Linked DNA regions of Homo sapiens. The protein of the gene in region 1 purifies or fractionates together with the protein of each later gene. This does not show direct contact. Each region holds a gene or a part of one and is shown in the gene's direction. Other genes may lie near its edges.

What was found.
Region 2: the proteins of LPAR4 (region 1) and ARFGEF3 purify together in Homo sapiens (affinity purification with mass spectrometry; 2 studies listed by BioGRID and IntAct, with this or other methods). This does not show direct contact.
Region 3: the proteins of LPAR4 (region 1) and FASTKD1 purify together in Homo sapiens (affinity purification with mass spectrometry; 2 studies listed by BioGRID and IntAct, with this or other methods). This does not show direct contact.
Region 4: the proteins of LPAR4 (region 1) and ATL3 purify together in Homo sapiens (affinity purification with mass spectrometry; 2 studies listed by BioGRID and IntAct, with this or other methods). This does not show direct contact.
Region 5: the proteins of LPAR4 (region 1) and ARHGEF40 purify together in Homo sapiens (affinity purification with mass spectrometry; 2 studies listed by BioGRID and IntAct, with this or other methods). This does not show direct contact.
Region 6: the proteins of LPAR4 (region 1) and PPTC7 purify together in Homo sapiens (affinity purification with mass spectrometry; 2 studies listed by BioGRID and IntAct, with this or other methods). This does not show direct contact.
Region 7: the proteins of LPAR4 (region 1) and BTAF1 purify together in Homo sapiens (affinity purification with mass spectrometry; 2 studies listed by BioGRID and IntAct, with this or other methods). This does not show direct contact.

Annotation. Positions count from the first base shown.
Region 1 is NC_000023.11:78,746,562-78,750,519, forward strand, and holds the start of LPAR4 (lysophosphatidic acid receptor 4), read left to right. Parts: upstream 1-1,158; 5' UTR 1,159-1,473; exon of another isoform or gene 1,474-1,625; intron 1,626-2,339; exon of another isoform or gene 2,340-3,612; 5' UTR 3,613-3,662; exon of another isoform or gene 3,663-3,958. UniProt on the Homo sapiens protein: Receptor for lysophosphatidic acid (LPA), a mediator of diverse cellular activities. Transduces a signal by increasing the intracellular calcium ions and by stimulating adenylyl cyclase activity.
Region 2 is NC_000006.12:138,164,939-138,168,438, forward strand, and holds part of ARFGEF3 (brefeldin A-inhibited guanine nucleotide-exchange protein 3), read left to right. Parts: intron 1-3,500. UniProt on the Homo sapiens protein: Participates in the regulation of systemic glucose homeostasis, where it negatively regulates insulin granule biogenesis in pancreatic islet beta cells. Also regulates glucagon granule production in pancreatic alpha cells.
Region 3 is NC_000002.12:169,563,866-169,567,365, reverse strand, and holds part of FASTKD1 (FAST kinase domain-containing protein 1, mitochondrial), read left to right. Parts: intron 1-3,500. UniProt on the Homo sapiens protein: Involved in the down-regulation of mitochondrial MT-ND3 mRNA levels which leads to decreased respiratory complex I abundance and activity.
Region 4 is NC_000011.10:63,623,587-63,626,376, reverse strand, and holds the end of ATL3 (atlastin-3), read left to right. Parts: 3' UTR 1-2,290; downstream 2,291-2,790. UniProt on the Homo sapiens protein: Atlastin-3 (ATL3) is a membrane-anchored GTPase that mediates the GTP-dependent fusion of endoplasmic reticulum (ER) membranes, maintaining the continuous ER network. It facilitates the formation of three-way junctions where ER tubules intersect.
Region 5 is NC_000014.9:21,073,304-21,076,803, forward strand, and holds part of ARHGEF40 (rho guanine nucleotide exchange factor 40), read left to right. Parts: intron 1-628; coding exon 629-1,877; intron 1,878-2,028; coding exon 2,029-2,196; intron 2,197-2,319; exon of another isoform or gene 2,320-2,341; coding exon 2,342-2,462; intron 2,463-3,056; coding exon 3,057-3,153; intron 3,154-3,232; exon of another isoform or gene 3,233-3,259; coding exon 3,260-3,340; intron 3,341-3,470; coding exon 3,471-3,500. UniProt on the Homo sapiens protein: May act as a guanine nucleotide exchange factor (GEF).
Region 6 is NC_000012.12:110,545,319-110,548,818, reverse strand, and holds part of PPTC7 (protein phosphatase PTC7 homolog), read left to right. Parts: intron 1-2,740; coding exon 2,741-2,939; intron 2,940-3,500. UniProt on the Homo sapiens protein: Protein phosphatase that plays an essential role in mitochondrial metabolism and biogenesis. Positively regulates biosynthesis of the ubiquinone, coenzyme Q. Dephosphorylates the ubiquinone biosynthesis protein COQ7 which is likely to lead to its activation.
Region 7 is NC_000010.11:91,986,270-91,989,769, forward strand, and holds part of BTAF1 (TATA-binding protein-associated factor 172), read left to right. Parts: intron 1-2,884; coding exon 2,885-3,311; intron 3,312-3,500. UniProt on the Homo sapiens protein: Regulates transcription in association with TATA binding protein (TBP). Removes TBP from the TATA box in an ATP-dependent manner.

The DNA of each region.
Region 1 (3,958 bases):
TGCCCTACTTGGGAGGCAGCTTAATTACACAAACTGAAGTTCTGAAGCAAATAGAGGATCCTCCAAGACTCCAGGGGCTCTGCTCTGCCAAGAGAAAGAAAGCACCTTATCCCTGGGCAGAGAATTTCATTCCAGAGGAGGGGGAGGGGCTGCTGTTGGTGGCTTTTGCAGTGGGTGGAGATAGAGTAGAGAAGGCTTGCAGGGGTGGGCTGGCAGAGGGGAAGGGCCAACAATGAAGTTACAGATGGATGAGTGGGTTTCTGCCACAAAATCAGATCAAGGAGAGGGAGGTGAAGAGGAAAATATAGGGAGGAAAAAAAAAAAGAATTGTGAGTGACCAAGGCAGTAAACCTGTAGATAATTAGAAAAGAAAATCTTGCCATGGGGGAGGTGGGCGGAGGTATACAGTTGCAGATAACTCTCTATTGTAAATAGATTGCATCTGTGCTATTTATTTTGTATTTTAGCAAATCTCTGAAATTTTCATGGTAATTAGACTTACTGCGAGGCAGTTACTTGAGAAGTGTAGACCCTCCTTTTGCTACAGAACACTCCCTAGTCCTTGGAAGGTGGGTGTCAGAGCTCTGGGACCCTAGTACATCTCTATCTGAGGGCACTTATCTGGCTTAAGTGAGTGTAGTATTAAAATTTACTTTATATTTTTGTGATGGTGGGAGATTGAATTTTGCACAGTGTGATAGGAATATTTTTATGGTACCTTTCATTTTTGCCTTTTCCTTGCCCCCTACTTATTATTATCAATATTGTTGTAATTATTTTAAACAAGTAGGAGCGAACATGGTATGCATAATTGAAACACTCCTCCTTGTTTGAAATGTTGTCTCCTCCTCTGCAGTCCTGCGGCAAAGACAGGCACACAGGCTTTCTCTGTGGATTAATTGGTCAGGAAAGACACTTTTTATATTGTCAAGTGGCACTTAAGCCATTAATTCTTGACTGTGAAACTGCTTTTCCTGGGCAATGCTCTTTAAGGAAAAACTTATTCAGTCCAGTGACTGGTGACTAAGGGAACGATGGAGCACAGGGAATTGGGCGGGATCTAGACTCCTAATAATGCCTCCTTAGCCAATGAAAAGCATTTCCTATTGAGACCCCCAAGAGTTCCCCTGGCCGTCGGCTCCAGCTCGGACTTCAGGCCTTTTTGTGTCCTGTTTGCTAAAGGCATGCGGGCTACAGCATTCAAGAGAGGGAGTCGTTAACAAAGGGAAAGAGATAAATGTAAATAAGCTCACATTTACAGAATGAGCGGTTTGCAGTAAAAAGCTGCGGCAGCCCAGAGTCTGCTACTTTAGGCTGGGCTAACCTTTCCCTGTAAAAAAAAAAAAAAAAAAAAAAAAAAAAAAATGGATAAAAATATGCACTTCCAAAGGGCGAGTTGCCCATTTACATGTTTATTAGCTAATTATCTACAGGCATCAGCACATTCTCTCATCTAGCACACTCTTTCTTGGGGTAAGTTTCTCTTTTAAAAAGATTTGATTTTGGCGTTTGGGGGTGGGGGATAGCATAACAAACTACAGTGGAAACACTGATGCTTTGAGAGTGTAAGGAAAGAAGTTAGACTTCAACTCTGAAGTACTGAACAAGGATCTTCGTGATGAATGGTAAAAAACGAGAATTTCCATTGTTTTGGCAATAATATTGTTTCCGTGGAAGACATACAGGATTTTCAGGCTGCTGTTTCATGTAAACACAGTTGTTCTAAAGAGCTAATTTAAAATCACAGTGTAGAACAATTTAGAAAGTATGTCGACTAGCTTTGTATTTCTTTGGTTTACAGTTTATTGTGCGCTAACGTGGCTTGTATTATGATGAGGTTTCTTCTAGTAAAACTATACATGACATGTCTTTGATGCTTAATTGATTTATGGAGAATGTGACATTTGCTATATTGAATAATTCATGAACTTGCCCATAAAGGAAGAATCATGTTTGAATGAAAAACTCTGTCATAAACTGAATTTGCAATTATATGTGAAATTAATTGCTGTTTGCCATACAAATGCATCAATGTGTCATCTTTAAACTCTCTTCTTGTAAATTTTAAATATTTTCAGTAAAAAGGTCTTATTGAGTTGCTAAATACAGTATTTCAGTTACCTTTTAAAAGGAAATTCAGCAATGTAATTTATCATTATTTCAGTGTGGAAAAGACCAGACAAATTCAAAGGTTAGAATATTTCAGAGCTTGGTGGGGTTATTCACTTTGCTACCTTACAAAATTATACCATCTTTCTTTATCTTGACTAACATAAAGACAATAATAATAACCTGAGATCCAGATTACCCAATGGCTTTGCAACACGTTTATTTTTCAGAACAAAATTCCCAACATCATATCCCATCAACATAGATTATAAAACCTTTTGCCTTGTCACAGATGAAAAGTTGCACTCTTGCCAAGAAGGATGAGTTCACCTGATAAACTTGATGGCATCTACATTCTAAAGTCTCTCCTGCCAATCAGAGATGGGAATGAAAGCCTTATTGGAACAATCAGGCCAGTCTTTCAGAATGTGTGCTCTCTGCAAGTTAAAGGGAGAACCAGGAAGATGCCTCACAGAAACATTCAGGCCAAGCTTAGCTAAAGCTTGATCTATTCAATTGCCTTTTGGGAAAATGCAGTGAGAATTGTTGCCCTTGCTGTGGTTTGTTCAGCGCCTAATTGTGTAGCTACCTTTTGTCTGTGTATATGGTCATCACATATAGTCTGCCCTTGGCCTTCTTGTTGGGGGAAGAACAAAACCTGTAATGTGTTTGCGAATATTAGTACTGAAAATTGGGAGCCCAATAAAAGGTTACCTACCACTGGGAATCCACCTTTACTTTAAGCGGATAAATAATCAGTTATCAGAACAATGTAACGGGTAAATGATCTAATGATTCTACATGGTTATGTCCTGAAATATGCCGATAACCTCATATTCTGAGGGGTGAAGTGACCAGGAAACAGGTGGGAAGGGTTGAGGGTTGAGACCTAAACAATTAGAGGTGATATGCCTGCTGAAATGAGCACAAGGACAGAGGATGAGGAAAATAAGGGAATTTGGAAGACTTTAGGATATTAGTGGCATCTTTCTCTGTGATTCTTAGCTTCCGGTATTAATTAATACTATTTATTTCTAATATTCAAATAAATCTAGCAATCATTTCATTAAGTCTAATAAAAATTAATGACCCTCCTTGCTTGCAGACTTTGAGGAAATAAAAAATGTTTTACAGTGGCCAATGTAAGCAGGTGAAAATAAATGATGGAAAAGAACAGCCAGTAAGGCCACCAGCATGGCACTCATTGAAGGTTGCTTTTCTGTCAGTCAAGACTGAAGATTAAAGGAGAAGAGAAACTGAGACTCAGAAATGGACTGTGACTTGCTCTCACAGAGCTCGTGATGGGGCTGGATGTGTCTATATTTAATTAATATCAGTTATAAAAACTTCTGGGTATTTGAACTTCCTAATTTGCTTGGATTTTGAATAAAAGGTTTTTTGTATAATCGTTATCAACTGTGAAAGGCATAAAATAATGTTAATGCTTCTGTTTTCCTTTACGATAAACCAATAAAATGGAATAAAATATTCATTTCATTCCAGGAAGACAGATTTCTGGAGGAGTGTGAAAATCAACTCTCCTTAATATTAAGGTGATCTCAATGTATCTTAAATTATCTAATCATTGTACTTATTTTGTTTTTTTAGATTATAGAAAAATCATTTCAGGAGAGTTGTAATACTATTTAGAAGTTTGCTTTGTTTTAGGCTACCTCTGTTTAGAAAAGGATGAGATGTAACAATAGTGTACGTTTGGAGCTAGGGGATGATTCTACTTTACAGATGGAAGCACTGTAATGGGTAAATTCTAAATGCGGTTGCTACTCCTAAGAATTCCATCGCAGAGTATTTCTGGTTTTATACAAATATTTTGTGCAGAGTTTGAATT
Region 2 (3,500 bases), on another chromosome or scaffold:
CCTCTCACGTAGACCCTCATGAGAGAGGGGTCATCCCCCACTTAGACCCTCATAGGAGCAAGGGGCCATCCCCTACTTAGACCATCATGGGAGAGAGGGGTCATCCTCACTTAGACCCTCATGGGAGAGAGGAAGCATCCCCCACTGAGACCCTCCTAGGAGAGAGAGGTCATCCCCCTCTGAGACCCTCATGAGAGAGAGGGGGCATCCCCGTCTGAGACCCTCATGAGAGAGAGAGGGCATCCCCCTCTGAGACCATTGTGCGAGACAGGGGTCATCCCCCACTTAGACCCTCATGGGAGAGAGGGGATATCCCCCTCTGAGACCCTCATGGGAGAGAGATCATCCTTGATTTAGACCCTCATAAGAGAGAGGGGCATCCGACACTGAGACCCTTGTGAGAGACAGGGATCATCCCCCTCTGAGACCCTCATAGGAGCAAGGGGTCATCCCCTACTTAGACCATCATGGGAGAGAGGGGTCATCCTCACTTAGACGCTCATGGGAGAGAGGGTCATTCCCCACTGAGACCCTCATGGGAGAGAGGGGGTCATCCCCCTCTGAGACCCACATGGGGGAGAGGGGCATCTCCCTCTGAGACCCTCATGAGAGAGAGGGGTCATCCCTCACTGAGACTGAGACCCTTATGGGAGGGAGGAGTCATTCCCCACTGAGACCCTCATGGGAGAGAGGGGTCATTTTCCTCTGAGACCCTCATGGGAGAGGGGTCATCCCTTACTTAGACCCTCAGGAGAGAGAGGGTCACTCCCCACTGAGACACTCATGAGAGACTGAGACTGAGACCCCCATAGGAGAGAGGGTCATCCGACTCTGAGACCCTCAAAGGAGAGAGGCATCATTCCTCACTCAGATCATTTTGAGATAGGTGATCATCACCATATTTAGACCATATCAAGAAAGCTGGACTTCTCCAGTCACTCCTGCCTGATCCTTGGTTTCCCTTGTTCTCTTTGTCCTGATGGTTCATGAGTGTATCCTTGAACCAGTCCTCTAGTCAAAGAATGAAGTAGAATAACTGGTTTAGGCCTAGGCTACAAGTTCCACTGAAATCCAGAGCTGGGGAAAAATGGCTTCCTGGAAGTAAAATTAAGATGCTTCTTCAAAAGCCAGGGGAATGGATACTCGTCAATCAAAACAATACATGTCAGCAGAGTAGTGAGCTCTTTAGCACAGGGACTGCCGTTTATGCTTCTTTGGTTGCTTCTGCACCTATAGTGGAAGGCAGATGTTCAATAAGTAAATCAATACTTTAACTACTTGTTTGAGTTTTAAATAATATTCATCTTTTTCTATTTATAAGAGTTATATATGTTCACTTTAGAATGTTGCAAATAATGGAACAACATAAAGAAAAAATTAAAATAATCTTCAGTCTCCCTATCCGGAGATAACACTGTTGACATTTTGGAGTCTTTCCCTTTGCAAAAGGTCATACCGCATATGGCATATTGTCATGTGTTTTTTAACTTTAGCATCTTCTTCTACTCTGTCTACTTTGTCATGACACTTCTCTGAAAATCAGTGTTAATGGCTGCAGAATAACTAATAAGGCATATGTATGTATCTTCTCTTTATTTAGTGTTATCTGGTTGGTTGTTTTTGTTAGTGAGGAATGGCGTGGCCAGGGAGTAGAAAGGAATGAATTGGATGAAGGGTTGGCTTGGGGAAAGGCAGAAAGAACTTCAGAAACTGGCAGTCCTGGGGGCTTGCAAGCTAGGCTGTGGTGGGATGAAATAGAATTGCAGAACAGGAGAGCTGGAAGCAACCAAGCCCTACTTTTAGTATTTTATATCTATCAGGGGCCTTATACAGAATGAATGTGGAAAATGGAGGAGCGGGGAAAGAAACTAGAGGTACGAAGGCCAAGTAGGGGAAGAGGGAACATCTATCCAACCAGCACCCTTCTCTCTATCTACCCATCTGCTTTTTCTTCCAGCCACAGGTGATTACTTCACAGCCAAACTTCTTAAAAAGTGTAGAAATTGTATCTGTGTTCTCACCTTCTACTCTGTCTTCATCTTTTTGTCATCTGCCTTTCACCTCCATCATCCCACCAACTCACAGTTACTGAAGAACAGTAACATACAGCCATTCGGCTGGCAGACCATTCTCATTCCCATCTCAGAGGTCCTCCTGGTGACACTGGACACAACTGGGCACCTGCTTTACCTTGACTTCTATGATCACACCCTACCAGCTCCATCTTGGTTCTTGAGCCATTCTGTCTCCTTTGCTAGTGCCAGATTCTGTCCCCAGCTGTAAATATTTGAGTTTCTCAAGGGTTAGCTTTGAGCCCTCATCTCTTACTCCCAGCTCTTCTGGAGTTGAACACACACATACCCACAGCTTCAGCTCCATTTCTGAGAATGTGATGCCCGTGTTTATATCACTAGTCGACACCAGTGCTCTGAAACGCACACCCCGCAACTTAGCTACCTGCTGAACATCTCCACCTGAATGGCTTGCAGGCACTCAGCTCAACAAGGCTCAAAGTGACTGTGTGTTCTTCCCCACCTCTACCTCACTGCCCAACCTCACTCACCTCTGGTGTTTCTAAATGATCAGTTGATGTCATCACCTGTCCAGTTGCATTGACCTGAAATCTAGAGTCATCCTTGATACATTTCTGTAATTTGCCATCTTACCTAGTCCGTCACCCAAGCTCTGCTCATTTTTACCTCCTAAATATATGTCAAGCCTGTTCACTTCTTTCTACCTCTGTTGCCAGCTCTCCAGAATAAGCTGCCTTCTCTTTTTATCTGAACTTCTGCAACACCCTCTTAACTGCTCCTTCCTTGTCTGCTCTAGTTCTTTTTCCCAAGTAGTGTCACCTTGGAAACCCCAATCTTTTCATGACATGCCATGTTAAAACACTGAATAGCATCCCATTAGGATAAAAACAAAAGTCCTTGGTGTGTTCTGTCCAGCCGTACATGGCCTGGCTCCTACCTGCCCCACAGCCTTGTGCTATGCCACCCTCATGAGACAGAGGGTCATCCCCCTCTGAGACCCTCATGAGAGAGAGGGGTCCTTGCTCTCTGAATTTCAGCCACACTGATCTTCTTTCAGTTACTCAGCTACACTGTGCTCCCTCTTACTTCATTAATTCAGCAAATATTTAGTGAGTACCTACTATGTGCCAGGTACTGTTCCAAGTGTTAGGGATAACATGGTGAGCAAAACATGCAAAAAGATCCAAGAGTTTACAGATTCTTGGAGAGATGACAGCCAGTAATCAAGATAAATAAATAAAATACACATGACAGCAAAGAGAGTGATAAGAGCTAAGAAAGGGAAAACATAAAATAGTGAAGAAGATAGGAGGTACTTGGAATAAAGAGGGAGTTGCCATTTAAATAGGGTATTCACGGAAAACCTTACTAAAAGGGAGGCTCCTAGTTGGGAAAACATCTGATGGCTTTGGGAAAGAGCAAGGAGCCAGGGGGCTGGAGCGACGGGAGAGAAGTAGGAAGTGAGGA
Region 3 (3,500 bases), on another chromosome or scaffold:
TTGATAATAGGTCACAACATTTTATTTCTCTTCAAAGCAAGGATACGTTATGTGTATTATGCAGCTTGAACAAATCACTTGTAAAATAGGTGGTCTTTTGTGTTTTATAATTACTGTATTAATTAAATTACATGTATGATTGTATTTTATAGTGAATCAAGCATTTCTTTTAAATTTTTCTTTATTTCAAAATAACTCAGAAGTACAATGATCTTGCTAAAATATCTATAAACTTATGTTTTTTTTTTTTTGAGACAGAGTCTCGCTCTGTTGCCCAGGCGGGAGCGTAGTGGTGTGATCTCAGCTCACTGCAAGCTCCGCCTCCTGGGTTCAAGTGATTGTCCTGCCTCAACCTCCCAAGTAGCTGGGACTACAGGCACCTGCCACCACACCTAGCTAATTTTTGTATTTTTAGTAGAGACAGGGTTTCACCATATTGGCCAGGCTGGTCTCAAACTCCTGACCTCGTGATCTGCCCACCTTGGCCTCCCAAAGTGCTGGGATTACAGGTGTGAGCCACTGTGCCCAGCCTGTTTTATAAATATAATTTGTAATGATTTAAATGGGGTAGATTATTCTGGATTAGTACTATATGATGAATCATGGCAAGGATAATTAACATGTATTTGAAATCCATATATATTTTTTTCTTTTGGGATAGGGTTTGGCTCTGTTACCCAGGGTGGAGTACAGTGGTACAACCAGGGCTCACTGCAGCCTCAGACTTCCAGGCTCAAGCCATCGTCCTATCTCAGCCTCCCAAGTTTCTGGGACCACAGGTGGATGCCACCACGCCCAGCTAATTTTTATATTTTTAGTAGAGATGGGATTTCGCCATGTTGCCAGGTTGGTCTTGAACTCCTGGGCTCAAGGAATCCTCCTACCTTGGCCTCCCAAGAAATCCAAATTTTTTTTAAAAAACTTTCTATTATAGAATATTTTTAACATTTACAAAAGGAGAAAGAGTAGTACAACGAATTCCCATGTACCCATCCTCCAGCTTCAACAATTGTCAACACATAGCCAGTCTTGTTTTATCTATATCCCCTCCCACTCTCAGTATACTTCAGTATATTTTAAATAATATCATTTCATCTTTAAATACCTCAGTATGTTTCTCTAAGGACTTTTTAAAAATATAGAACCAGCTGGGCGTGGTGGCACACGCTTGTAGTTTCAGCTACTCAGAAGGCTGAGGTGGCACAGCAAAGGATACAATCAACAAAGTGAAGCGAGAGTACACAGAAGGGTAGAAAATATTGGCAAACTACCCATCTGACAAGGGATTAATAACCAGAATATATAAGGAGCTCAAACAACTCTAATTAGGAAAAAGTCTAATAATCCAATCAAAAAATGGGCAAAAGATTTGAGTAGAGATTTCTCAAAAGACCCGTGCAAATGGCAAACAGGCATATGAAAAGGTGCAACATCAGAAAAATGCAAATCAAAACTACAATGAGACATCATCTCACCACAGTTAAAATGGCTTATATCCAAAAGACATGCCATAACAAATGCTGGCAAGGATGTGGAGAAAAGGGAACCCTGCACACTGTTTTTGGGAATGTAAATTAGTATAAGCTCTATGGAGAACAGTTTGGAGGTTCCCCCAAAAACTAAAAATTGAGCTAGCATGTGATCCAGTAATCCCACTGCCTGGGTATATACCCAAAAGACAGGAAATCAATATATTGAAGAGATATCTGTACTCTTACGTTTATTGCAGCACTGTATACAATAGCTAAGATTTGAAAGCAACATAAGTGTCCATCAACAGATGAATGGATAAAGAAAATGTGGTGGCTGGGCGCGGTGGCTCACGCCTGTAATCCCAGCACTTTGGGAGGACAAGGCGGGCGGATCATGAGGTCAGGAGATCGAGACCATCCTGGCTAACAAGGTGAAACTCCGTCTCTACTAAAAATACAAAAAGTTAGCCGGGCGTGGTGGCGGGCGCCTATAGTCCCAGCTACTCCTGAGGCTGAAGCAGGAGAATGGCGTGAACTCGGGAGGCGGAGCTTACAGTGAGCCGAGATCGCGCCACTGCACTCCAGCCTGGGTGACAGAGCGAGACTCCCTCTCAAAAAAAAAAAAAAAAAAAAAAAAAAAAAAAGCCTGGTGTGGTGGCTCACGCCTGTAATCCCAGCACTTTCGGAGGCCGAGGCGGGCTGATTACCTGAGGTCAGGAGTTCGAGACCAGCCTCAACATGGAGAAACCCTGTCTCTACTAAAAATACAAAATTAGCTGGGCATGGTGGTGCATGCCTGTAATCCCAGCTACTCGGGAGGCTGAGGCAGGAGAATTGTTTGAACCTGGGAGGCGGAGGTTGCAGTGAACCGAGATCGCGCCATTGCACTCCAGCCTGGGGCAACAAGAGCGAAACTGCGTCTCAAAAAAAAAAAAAAAAAAGAAAAATGTGGTATATATACACAATGGGGTAATATTCAGCCGTAAAAAAAATGATATCCTGTCATTTGCAACATGGGTGGAACTGGAGATTATTATGTTAAGTGAAATAAGCCAGGCACAGAAAGATAAACGTCGCATGCTTTCACTCATTTGTGGGAGCTAAAAATCAAAACAATTGAACTAATGGACGTAGAGAGCAGAACGATGGTTACCAGAGGCTGGGAAGGGTAACGGGCGATTGTGGGGGAGGTGGGGATGGTTAATGGGTAAAAAAAAATAAAATGAATAAGACCTACTATTTGACAGCACAACAGGGTGACTATAGTCAATAATAACTTAATTATACATTTTAAAGTAACTTAGAACGTAATTGGATTGTTTGTAACTCAAAGGATAAATGCCTGAGGGAATGGATACTCCATTTTTCATGATGTGTTTATTTTGCGTTGCATGCTTGTATCAAAATATCTCATGTACCCCATAAATATATGTACCTACTATGTACCCACAAAAAAAATTTTTTTTTTAATTTTAATAAAAATGCTGAGGTTGGAGGATCACTTGAGCCTAGATGTTCAAGTTCAGCCTGGGCAACACAGTGAGACACTGTGTCTTAAAAACATAATAAAATTGATAAATTTAAATTTTCGATATTACCTAGTACCTTGTCTGTGTTCAAATTTTGTTGATTGTCTTATAAAGGTCTTTTTATAGGCAGTTTATTTAAATCAGTTTCTGAGTAAGGTTCACAATTACTGTGTCTCTTAAATTTTTTTGTTTCTTTTTAAATAAACTTTACAGAAAAATAATGTATAAAAATTATACTAGTCATAAGCATACAGCATGATGAATTTTAATATACTGATCATTGCTATGTAACAGCACCAAGATAAGGAAACAACATCATTAGTTCTTTTCATGTTCTCTTCTAGTCCTCTCACCCAAAAAGGATCTTGACCTCTAACACCATAAATTGTTTCTATAGAAATGGAATCCTATAGTATGTACCCTTATAGTTTAGTTTGCTCAGTATGTTTTAAGGATTTATCCATTATGTTGTATGATTCCATAATTTTATTCTATTGTA
Region 4 (2,790 bases), on another chromosome or scaffold:
ACAGAGGTCTCGCTCTGTCGCCCAGGTTGGAGTGCAGTGGTGCAATCTCGCTCACTGCAACCTCCACCTCCCAGGTTCAAGCGATTCTCCTGTCTCAGCTTCCTGAGTAGCTGGGACTACAGGTGTACACCACCACGCCTGGCTAATTTTTGTTTTTTTACTAGAGGTGGGGTTTTGCCATGTTGGCCAGGCTGGTCTCAAACTCCTGACCTCAGGTGATCCACTCCCCCCAGCCTCCCAAAGTGCTGGGATTACAGGCATGAGCCACCCCGCCCAGCTGAGTCATGCCTTATTTTCGTAGTATACCAAGAAATGTTCTATGGAAGTTTACGTTTTAACACCTCTTTTATACTTGGTAAAATTGCCTGTGTTTCGCTTTATTCCTTTTTTTTTTTGAGACGGACTCTTGTACTGTCACCCAGGCTGAAGTGCAGTGGCGCAATCTTGGCTCACTACAACCTCCGCCTCCTGGGTTCAAGTGATTCTTTTGCCTCAGCCTCCCAAGTAGCAGGGATTACAGGCATGTGCCACCACACCCGGCTTATTTTTGTATTTTTAGTAGAGACAGGGCTTCGCCATGTTGACCAGGCTGGTCTCAACTCCTCTGGGAATCCGCCTGTCTTGGCCTTCCAGGGTGCTGGGATTACAGGCGTGAGCCACTGGAACCTGGCCTTGTTTTGCTTTATTTTTTCTCTTACATGAAGTAAAGCGCTTTGGTCAAACACACAAAAATACTGCCTTGTACTGGTGGTTGGTTTCATTAGTGGATCACACACAGTGTTCTACTTGGCTTGTAAAATGGTGCCTTGGATAGGGTGAGTTTGGATAAGTATGTATGTATGTATGAGTTATAGCAAAATTAAGTAGATTGAATCAAGTCCATGCAAAAGCAATAAAACAGTTTTAATTTTTTAATTTTTTAAAAATTAAAACTTTAATAAAACAGTTTTTAATTTTTTGCTAGGTTCTTTTAAAAAATGATGTAACTTACATGGAAGTCTTCACAGGACTTTTTTCTTTCCTGGAACTATTGAAATGTAATTTAGGATGATTTGATCTTCCATCTCAAGTTGTCAACATGGCTGTGTCATTCTGGCTTACATATGTTTTATTTAACAAAATTCTAGTCAAGGGATAAGGGCATAATGAAGACAAGCTTCAGTTATGAAAGTACAAACTATTTGTGTGATTAATTTTTAAAAATGACATTAAGAAGCCCATTGTAAAATAATATTTGCAGTCAAATGGTTTTTCTTGCTGTAAGTCCTGTTGTAGCTATGTTTAGGGTAGTGGTTCTCATCTACCTTGGAGTGCATAAGACTTACCTAGCAGGCTTGTTTAAAAAGTTCAGATTCCTAGCTTTGTACCCAGGGATTGCCTCAGGTGGTATGGGCTGTGGTCCTGGAGTCATCACTTTTATAAATAGTGGTTCAGAGACCACAGAGAGAGACTGCTTCATCGAATGGGAAGTACCAAGGAGAAAGTACAATTCAGTATTGTCTGGAGGCAAGTGGACACTTTGTACCTGAGGTTTAGAATAGGTGGTCTCTTGCCAGTACAATCCCCAGGCGTTTTCTGTGTTCAGAAGTAGTAAGAATGCCTTTAATTCAGAGGATTATCTAAGCTCTTTAAAGCTGTTTTTCTCCATTGTCATAGTGCCTTCTCTGAAAAATGAATGTACAGGTATCCTATTTTCTAATGTAATTAGGATTTTTTAAAAGCAATTTTTGATAGTTTTTCTTTTAAAAAGTAAAATTCAGCACTGTGACTTGAACCCCCAAATCTTTCACATACAGGTGAAACATTAAGCCACAAATAAAAATAATGAACAAGAAAGAAGACAAGATCCTAATTCCTGTCATTAGTGACCTAAGTACCCCATATCAGAAACTTTGCAAAACAGATCTAGGGACAGAAGGGCTTTGAAAGACATTTTTCTTTGGGGCAAATTTCGTGTGCCAGAACTACAGTTTAAATGTTTTTATGAGCAAGGGAAGGTAGCATTGATTCCCATAGCTTTCTAATTAGATACATGCTGTCATGGATGTAAGCCTTAAAGGAGTTAATACTAATCTTGTACATACACAAATTTTCCTCAGGTTTTTTTATTTTAAAAAATGATTTGTTAAAAGTACTGTCTGCTAGACCCTTGCCTTTGAGTGGCTTTGAAACTTAATATAGTTTTTAAAAAGTGCAATGGGATGAGATTATGCTATTAGTATATTAAAAGCATGTTTCTGTTTTACTCCAATTTGTAAGATCATTTAATGGAATAAAGATCACAACACCATGTTATCTGTGTTTTCTTTCTCTGTGTTTTTAATATGGGAGGTTCTGTGAAATAGTTTGGCTTGGCAAAGTGAATAAGACTTCTGACGGGATAGTGGCAATGTGGTTTGAGTTAGCTTTCTCTGTCCTACAAAACGACACTGAACAAGTGTCTTACTAGCATAGTCCTGGAGAAGGCTCTATTGTTGGCAGGGTTGCTTAAAAGTGAGCACAAGGGCCAGGTGTCGTGGCTCACTCCTGTAATCAGCACTTTGGGAGGCTGAGGTGGGAGAAATGCTTGAGCCCAGGAATTTGAGACCAGCTTGGGCAACATATGGAGACACTTTCCACCTCTGTCTCTACAAAATAAAAGTGCATAGTGGCACCCACCTGTAGTCCTAGCTACTCGGGAGGCTGAGGCAGGATGATCACTTGAGCCCAAGAGTTTTGAGACCAGCTTGGGCAACATATGGAGACACCTTCCACCCCGTCTCTGGAAAAAACAAAAAACAAACCCAGGCA
Region 5 (3,500 bases), on another chromosome or scaffold:
AGCCAGGCTGACTAATGCCCCCACTAACCTAGAGATACAGCCTCCCTTGAAACCGATCTCTCCAGAATCACTTAAGCTTCATTCTCTGACCTCTCACAAACTTTGACCTTCACAGGCACTGACCATTCAGATGCTAACACACACACACACACACACATTCATCTTCCCCAAATTCATCTTGACCCCAATACTGACCCCCAAAGACCCTAACTCTCCAGACCCAATTCCAGACATCTTCTCCCCCTCATATGAATTTCTCAAGACACTAACTCCCCCGTACATTAGTCAACAGAGATCATTCATTTCTACAGATATAAAGACTCCTAAGAGTCTTTAGCTTCTCCAAGACAATGGCATCTGCTGACCATGTCTTGGTAACGATTCAGTTCTTACCCTCCCACACATGGAACTAGCTTCCTGAAGAATCTTCCTACTACTGGGAGACCGATCAGTCCCAATCCCTTCCTCTCTGCCACCTGAATACCCCAAATCTCCCCTCCTGCTCTCCTGAGAGTATAACCTTCCAGGCATAAGGCTGGTCCTGCCTAGGGTGGGCCCATTCTAACTGCCCTCTCCTGCTGGTTTCTTCAGCAGAGGCCTGAGTGCAGCCTCCCACCTCTCTCCCCAGGCCCAATACAGTGGATTCCTCTTCTTCCATGAGGGGTGGCCGCTCTGCCTGCATGAACAGGTGGTGGTGCAGCTAGCAGCCCTACCCTGGCAACTGCTGCGCCCAGGAGACTTCTATCTGCAGGTGGTGCCCTCAGCTGCCCAAGCACCCCGACTAGCACTCAAGTGTCTGGCCCCTGGGGGTGGGCGGGTGCAGGAGGTTCCTGTGCCCAATGAGGCTTGTGCCTACCTATTCACACCTGAGTGGCTACAAGGCATCAACAAGGACCGGCCAACAGGTCGCCTCAGTACCTGCCTACTGTCTGCGCCCTCTGGGATTCAGCGGCTGCCCTGGGCTGAGCTCATCTGTCCACGATTTGTGCACAAAGAGGGCCTCATGGTTGGACATCAGCCAAGTACACTGCCCCCAGAACTGCCCTCTGGACCTCCAGGGCTTCCCAGCCCTCCACTTCCTGAGGAGGCGCTGGGTACCCGGAGTCCTGGGGATGGGCACAATGCCCCTGTGGAAGGACCTGAGGGCGAGTATGTGGAGCTGTTAGAGGTGACGCTGCCCGTGAGGGGGAGCCCAACAGATGCTGAAGGCTCCCCAGGCCTCTCCAGAGTCCGGACGGTACCCACCCGCAAGGGCGCTGGAGGGAAGGGCCGCCACCGGAGACACCGGGCGTGGATGCACCAGAAGGGCCTGGGGCCTCGGGGCCAGGATGGAGCACGCCCACCCGGCGAGGGGAGCAGCACCGGAGCCTCCCCTGAGTCTCCCCCAGGAGCTGAGGCTGTCCCAGAGGCAGCAGTCTTGGAGGTGTCTGAGCCCCCAGCAGAGGCTGTGGGAGAAGCCTCCGGATCTTGCCCCCTGAGGCCAGGGGAGCTTAGAGGAGGAGGAGGAGGAGGCCAGGGGGCTGAAGGACCACCTGGTACCCCTCGGAGAACAGGCAAAGGAAACAGAAGAAAGAAGCGAGCTGCAGGTCGAGGGGCTCTTAGCCGAGGAGGGGACAGTGCCCCACTGAGCCCTGGGGACAAGGAAGATGCCAGCCACCAAGAAGCCCTTGGCAATCTGCCCTCACCAAGTGAGCACAAGCTTCCAGAATGCCACCTGGTTAAGGAGGAATATGAAGGCTCAGGGAAGCCAGAATCTGAGCCAAAAGAGCTCAAAACAGCAGGCGAGAAAGAGCCTCAGCTCTCTGAAGCCTGTGGGCCTACAGAAGAGGGGGCCGGAGAGAGAGAGCTGGAGGGGCCAGGCCTGCTGTGTATGGCAGGTGAGATGACACGGAGTGAGGCTCATGGGGCAAGGGCCAAAGCAGGTCGGGCCTATGGGAGGGGGCAGGAGGAGGAGCAGGGTTAGGCTGGGAGCAGAACAACCAGAACCATCTTAACTTCAGTCCCATGTTTCTGTCTGTGTCTGTGCAGGACACACAGGCCCAGAAGGCCCCCTGTCTGACACTCCAACACCTCCGCTGGAGACTGTGCAGGAAGGAAAAGGGGACAACATTCCAGAAGAGGCCCTTGCAGTCTCCGTCTCTGATCACCCTGATGTAGCTTGGGACTTGATGGCATCTGGATTCCTCATCCTGACGGGTCAGTGGGCATCAGTGGGTGAAGGGAAACAGGACTGGGAAAGAGAAGCAATTGGGTGGGCTTGGGGACTGGGGGAGGCAGGGTGGAAAGGAGGTAGGCATGGACTGCTCCCAGCCAGGACAGCCTGGCCATTTTGTGTCTTCAGGAGGGGTGGACCAGAGTGGGCGAGCTCTGCTGACCATTACCCCACCGTGCCCTCCTGAGGAGCCCCCACCCTCCCGAGACACGCTGAACACAACTCTTCATTACCTCCACTCACTGCTCAGGTAACCGAGGCCCAGTCCTGGCACCCTGGACACTAACCTCCTGATTCATGAGGACCCTCACCTCCTTCTTCTCAGGACACTGACCTTCTGACCTCTAAGGACACCTACTTCTTCAACCTTCAGACTTCAAGCCATTGACCTTTGGCCTTACTTACCCTGACCTCCAGCTTCATATCTTCACTGATCTTCAAAAGCAACACTGTTGACTTTCACTCTCTTCCAACCCTACCAAGATCATCAGGACATTGGTTCACTGATTCAACAAACATTTATTGAGCACTGAGTACCTATTAGGCACCATACTACAGGCTGATATTGAATGCACGCCATTTCAGAACAGAATTCTTAATTTTCCAGACCTTAATCCCTTGACCTAGTAGCCATATGAATATAGACCCCTGACTGCTAGGTGACTTCCTCTTGTACACACACCCCAGAATTTGGCCCTTTGCCCATTTCTTCCCAAATGTACCGGCAACTAATTTCTCCTCAGGACTATTAACTAAAAACAGACCCCGTATGTCTGCCTTGCCTTATCTGCTATCCCCCAAAACACACACACAGCAGCCTCCTTGGCTCTTCCTGCTCCCGCAGGCCTGATCTACAGACACTGGGGCTGTCCGTCCTGCTGGACCTTCGTCAGGCACCTCCACTGCCTCCAGCACTCATTCCTGCCTTGAGCCAACTTCAGGTAACCACCCCTCAAACAGGCAGTTCCCCTGGATCCTAACTCTTCACCAGTGGCCAGTCCAGGACACCCGATTGCCCAGTTTAGGGTTATTCTTTTCTGCCCTTAGGACTCAGGAGATCCTCCCCTTGTTCAGCGGCTGCTGATTCTCATTCATGATGACCTTCCAACTGAACTCTGTGGATTTCAGGTTTGAGCCCTTCATTCCCATCTAGTTTCCCATCAGTAGTGGGGAGAGGAGAAGAGGCTGGCTGGAGCCCCAGGCTGGTTTCTGAGTCCTTGGGTGCCCAGGAAGAAACCCCCTGCCTTACCCTCTACAGGGTGCTGAGGTGCTGTCAGAGAATGATCTG
Region 6 (3,500 bases), on another chromosome or scaffold:
TTGGTGCTGCTTTGGATACTGAAGCTCAGTCACTCACCAGGACTGTTTTGATTCCAACTCAGCGAGTTACTGTCGCAGGGTAGCAAAGGATAGCCTGGCTTCGTCAGTGAGTATATAAGGAGTCACATGAGTCCTTCTTGCAGCAGAATTTTCAAGGATGTGCTACTCGGGTTGTTTTTCTTTCTCAGAATATAATCCCATGAGTTTTCAGAAGATGTTTTGGGTGGTGATCTATTAATGATAAAAGGTTAGAGTTGATGTGCACTGAGTTAGGAAGGAAAGGTAATGGGCAATCTTTGTCCTACTGTAAGCTATGGAGCGGGTTATCTGACAGCACTACCAGTGAGTTACAGTACCCGTGCTTTGCTTTTCGTTGACACTTAATGGCTAGCATAGTATGAGTTAGTACTAACGCATATACTGTAGATAACAAGGAAATGGAATTTCTGGGCATTAGCATGAGAAAGACATGTATATTTTTAAGTGTTTTTAAATTACTTTGTTAGGACAAAATTAATAATAAAAATTACCCATGATCCCACTAAAACAACTATTAATATTTGAGTGATTATGCTTTCAGATTTTTTTTCTGTGTGTATGTGTGCATAGAATAATGGTAACTTGAATTGAGTCTACTATGTGCCCACAACAGCCCCATGAGGTAAATACATAGGTACTTAATTTTATTCCCCTCCACCTTTTTTTTTTTTTTGAGACAGAGTCTTGCACTGTTGCCCATGCTAGAGTGCAGTGGTGCAATCTCAGCTCACTGAAACCTCTGCCCCCCGGGTTCAAACAATTCTTGTGCCCCAGCCTCCGAAGTAGCTGGGATTACAGGTGTGCACCACCACGTCCAGCTAATTTTTTGTGTTTTTAGTAGAGAGGGGATTTCACCATGTTGGCCAGGCTTAGTCTCGAACTCCTGGCCTCAAGTGATCCACCCGCCTCAGCCTCTCAAAGTGCTGGGATTACAGGCATGACCCACCACGCCTGAACTATTCTCCATTTTGTTAGGAAGAAACAAGTCTGGAGAGAATAAGTGACTTGCCATGGTCACATAGCTGGAAAATGATGGCACACTGGGATTTAATATGGCTGGTTCCGTGGCCCATTTGTGTTGTTTTCCTTTTAACCATCATTTTAATAATTTAGACTTTGCCTATTGCTTTTTTAAAAAAATTGACTTCTAGTAAACTTTACTCTTTTTGGTGTACAGTTCTTTAGGTTTTGACATCATCTTTTTTTGTTGTTGTTAAGGAAACTTTCATATGAGTTTGTAATCTACTTATTTTATAGTTATCTTTCCTTTCAAATATATTTTACATAATCTTAATGGCTATAAAATAGCCAACACTATCTGTTATAAGGGTTTGACATGACTTAACTAATTTTAATTCTTAGAAAAATTCTATGAGGTACTTACTGTTATCCCTGTTTTTGTGGATGAGGAAACTGGGGCACAGAGAGGTTAAGTAGTTTGCCCCATCACAGAGCTGGGAAGTGGCAGAGCTGGGATTCAGACACAGGCAGGAAGCAGGCTGACTCCAGAGCCTGTACTCCTGAGTATTACGTGATGGTGTATCTTTGCACTGTATGGATGTACTGTAATTTATTTAACCAGTCCCTTATTTTAGATGTTTAGATTGTTTCCAGTTCTTTCTCATCTTAAGTAATATTTTTGTACTTAAGTCTTGTTTGCCCTTCTAATTATTTTCTTAGCGTAAATTCTCAGAGATGGAATTGCTAGATGAAAGGAGGTACATTTTTCCGGGCTATCTTGCGCTCCAGGAAAGTTGTTTACTTTTACTTTTCACTCCCGCAGAATGAATGTTCTGTGCAGTGGGCATGTTCCCTACACTTTGCCAACAATATGCATTATCTTCTTTTGACTCGTGTTAAACTAATAGGTGAAAAGCGTTACTAGTGAGGTGGTCATTTTTTCATATATTTACAGATCATCTACACTTATTTCTTTGTGAACTGCCTGTTTTTCTATGTTGCCATTTTTCTGGTGGCGGTAGGTAGGTTTAACTGTTAGTACTTGAGAGTGGTCTCTGCTAGTTGTGCCATTAGCCTTTCAGTCTAGGGAAGATTCTGTGGCCCGTGCACAGCAAAGCTATGCAGAGTTCTTTGCCCAGAGTCTCTGTCGAATGAACAGGTTGATTCCACAAGCTGCCTGCAGAAATTTGGTCTTGTTACCTCATAGTGAGTGAGTCATTAGTCTCCAATAAAAGTTCTTCCTGACCTCAACAGATGGAAATCTGGTTTAAAATTGTAGTTATGTGCCCTGTCTTAAATGTGAGTGAATTTTGTGGCCAATGACTAATAAGAAATGTCGGGAAAATGTAACATTTTCATTCTGGCATTGAAGTATTAAAACTTAATATCTCAACAACATGTTTTTGAGCATTTGGCATAGATGACAGCACTGTTGAAATGAAATAGTGTGATTAAATACCAGTCATTTTTATTGCTTTCTGTCAATGCAAATGGAAGAATTCAGATCATCTGTGGCCCAATTACTATGTATAATACAAATCCTTTTTCTTTCCCCACCGTGTTAACCCTGATCAGGATTTTATTGATATTCGTAGAGGATGTGGAGCATAACTAAGAAAGGTCCTGTTTAGGCAAAGGAGATTGAAATTATGGTGTGTTGCTCTGTGGGGTCATGTGTTAAAATGTGTGTGCAAAGGCAGCCTAGGAAGAAAAAATAAATGGAGATGATTTTTGTTTCTAGGTAGCAGCACCGCCTGCATTGTGGTGCTGGACAGAACCAGCCACCGCTTACACACAGCAAACCTGGGCGATTCAGGCTTCCTGGTTGTCAGGGGTGGTGAAGTCGTGCACCGATCAGATGAGCAGCAGCATTACTTCAACACTCCATTCCAGCTCTCAATCGCTCCCCCTGAAGCCGAGGGAGTCGTCTTGAGCGACAGGTAATCTCCCCTCTCAGCCATTAAGTGTGAGCAGGACGTGGCTCATTCATAGTCCCCTCCTGTCCCCCTTGAGTGCAGTGAGGTAGGCATTTCCATGAAAAGAATACACTGAGAATGTTCTCATCAAGAGGACCTTTTAGTTTAACTTTGAAAGATACTTTTCTGGAACTAGATAATCTAGCTAAGTGGAATTCTGATAAATACCCAATAATTTGACAAGACCATGAAAATACTATTTCAGGCTTACAGAATATCAATTTTTCATATCAACACCACATGGTACATACAGTACTTTATTAAATTGTGCTGGAGAAATGAGTCATTGTTCATGCATGCCATTGCTTGTACAAGATTTTGCATACATTGTTAGGGAAGAGCACAAACAGACATCTGCGTTATTTATTGGAGTAACTTCCTGATTCTCTAGACCTCTTACTACATGCATCAAATAGAACTTGCAGGAAATGGAGTCAAAATGGTCTTAAGTGACTGGGCACGGTGACTCACGCCTGTAATCCCAGGACTTTGGGAGGCTGAGGCGGGTGGATCACTTGAGGCCAG
Region 7 (3,500 bases), on another chromosome or scaffold:
TATGCTGTGTATCTGGGCCATTTGTTCAATGTATTTGTCTTTCCTTATGCCAGCATCCATGCTTCATTACAGCAGCTTTGTACTTAGTAAGTGCATGAGATTAGGTGTAGTATATATGAGTTCTTCCTTTTTTGAGTTATAGGATCAGAAATTGAGTCACTTCATTTGTGTTGGTCCCCATGAAAATAGTAATCTTCATTTCTTATCCCCATTTCTAGTTGAAAAATAATATAGTTGAATTTTTTTGTTCTCACCTGTGGAGAGAAAGCTAAAATTGCTGTTTTTTTTCCCCCTGGGTTCTCTTCTTTTATAAAGTTATTTTCCCGAGTGTTGTTATTCTGTAAGTTTTCCTTTTTGCCTCCTCTCCCTACTTTTTTGCCTGTCTGGAATTAAATCTCAAATTTTCTTTATAGTCTAGGTTCCCTGCCTACTATTTCTGGGAACTTTCCTTTTTTAAGCTCATCAAATGGCCCCTTCTTTAAGATTTGCTTATTCAGATCTTTTACTCTTCAGTTGTTTTGACTTGGGCTAGAAGATAAGCATAAATATCAGAATCTCTGGGAGAGACTTTTTTTCTTTTTTTTTTCTGTAAGGGACTTTTGAGGGAAGGGCAGTTTTCAAAGGAGCCACTGCCTTTTGTATCTTCATTGAATCCCTGTTTTCCTGTTACCTGCCAAATATAGACATTTCCCTGCGATCTTTGTCTCTTGCACCATTCTCATGATTTAGTTCCTACCCAGGTACTGTGTGCTGTCTACTCTCAGTCTTTCTTACGTTCTTCTTTTAGGCATTTTTACTTAAATATCTCACTGTCACTTCACACTGAACACAACAAAAACTGGCTTTTTTTTTTTTTTTTTTGACAAAGATACTCTTTTTATTCCAGTCACAAATCTTGTCAGCATTTTCTTTCAGAAAGTCTCATGTGTTTAGGCCGGGCGCAGTGGCTCACGCCTGTAATCCCAGCACTTTGGGAGGCCGAGGTGGGTGGATCATGAGGTCAGGAGATCAAGACCATCCTGGCTAACATGGTGAAACCCCATCTCTGTTAAAAATACAAAAAATTAGCCGGGCGTGGTGGTGGGTGCCTGTAGTCCCAGCTACTCGGGAGGCTGAAGCAGGAGAATGGCGTGAACCCAGGAGGCGGAGCTTGCAGTGAACCAAGATCACGCCACTGCGCTCCAGCCTGGGTGACAGAGTGAGACTTGGTCTCAAAAAAAAAAAGAAAGTCTCATGTTTAATCTCTTCTCTATTTCCATTATCAGAGCCCAGTCAGATCTTAGTACTTTATATCTAGGTCCTGACTCATCTCTAGGGCTCCAGGCAGCCTCTGGTCCATTTCATTCTGCATGTTGTGCTAGACTAGCAATGCTCTTTTTGTGCCACCCTGAACATCCCTCTCCTGCTTAAAAACATTATTTTCCTTTTCCTTGCTTTTTCATTTTTATCTTTCTTCTTTTCATCACTTTCTTCTAAATGCTCTATCTCTTATCTCCTCATTATTTCTCAAACTTTCTCCACTCACGCCCAGTTAGCTTTCTTCTTGCGCAAGTACGCTACACTTATTCACTTCTGCTCATTCTCACTTCTGGGCCCGAGCTTCTATTTCCTTTGCCAGGAATTCCCCATCCCTAACCCTCTGTGCTTATCCAGAGTTCATCTCTTTTTCTGTGTGTTGTGCTCAAGCTATGATAAACTTCAATTCCACAGACAGTGTCCTGTTTTCCACTCCCTACCTCACTTTGTTTGCCAAGATGTCCCTATAATCCCTGATTGGCCTGTTCTTTAAAAACCAAGCATAAGTGTTATCCTCCTCTGACAAGTCTCCCACTAATCTCTTCTTCTAAGAAGGAATAAGGAGTGCTCTGTATTCCCACAGCAACTTGCACTTACCTCAGTTATATGTTACATTTTCTTAATTATTTATATCTCTCCCACATTAGTCTCTGCATTTTTTGAGCATATTAAGACATTATATCTTATTTATCTTTTAATAAATATTGGTTGAATGATTGAATTAATTTGGGGGTAACTGAGGCTTTTCCTCAGTTGTCTACAGTCATTGAAAAGTGACATGAGCATAGTGGATTTAGGACAATGTTTTTAAACTTTTAGCATTGTAACCCTGTTTCAAATAAATCTTATACATTGTACATTTCAAATGGGTAGTTTTTATGGTATGCAAATTATATCTGAATAAAGTTGTTAAAAAAAAGACTGACTGAACAGTCTTTCAATGGGGCTTGCAAAGTAGTCTGGTACAACAGTCCTGTAGCCTTAGATAGCTCTTGGTAATTAAGTGAATGATAACTGCACCATTTTGTTCTGTTCTGTTTTGTTTTGTTTTGTTTCTTTTCCTTCTTCCATTGCCTGGGCATTTCCACCAGAAGGGAGGTTAAAGAAAGAAAGAGAATGATTCAGTTAGCAACACTTAGCCACTTAGTAAACAGCCACTCTTAAGTTTTCACGAGTTTTAGAGTTGAAAAGAATATTTTTCCCAAAAAGAAGTTTGTGAGTTTTGGAATTCCTTCATGAACAGTTAGTTTATATTTGCCTGTAGCTTTCTTGTTTCACCAGAGTATTCTGCGGGTGTTAAATGTGATTTTCCTCAAAGTCATTTAGACATATTTAAAGGTTAGATAATTTTATTCTTCTCAAGAGAATGTCTTTCTTAAAGAATATAATGCTAATGTTAAATTTTAGTCAGATTAAAATAAAATTTAGTTGGGAAGTTTTAGACATTAGTTTACTGAGTACTAAAACAATATTACATATTGTGGAAACCAAAATTGAAACAGAAAGCTTGCTGTCTACCCTTTAGGAGCTTACAGTCTATTTGGGGTTGATATGATTAATGATTTTTAATTTCTTTTTTTTTTAATAGGTCACTACTGTTTTTAATGAAGCCACATCATCTTTCGATTTAAATCCTCAAGTGTTACAACAGTTAGATAGTAAACGACAGCAGGTCCAAATGACAGTTACAGAGACCAACCAGGAGTGGCAAGTGTTGCAGTTGAGAGTGCATACTTTTGCTGCCTGTGCAGTTGTGAGCTTGCAGCAGCTTCCGGAGAAATTAAATCCTATCATAAAACCATTAATGGAGACAATTAAAAAAGAAGAGAATACACTAGTGCAAAACTATGCAGCTCAGTGCATAGCTAAACTCCTTCAGCAGTGCACAACAAGGACGCCCTGTCCCAATTCAAAAATTATTAAAAACCTCTGTAGCTCACTTTGTGTGGACCCATATCTAACTCCTTGTGTCACATGTCCAGTACCAACACAAAGTGGCCAGGAAAATTCTAAAGGTATATACCTAAACTTTTATTTGGGGTAGAGAAATAACCTTTTAAATTTGTTTTTGTTTACTTATGGGTATAATTTAAGCACAAATCCAGTTCATGTTAGTGTTTTTTCCCATTCTGAGAGAAAAGGCTTGATTATAACAAAACTCTTTGTTACATGAATTTGCACATAATACTTACCAGTCACAACCC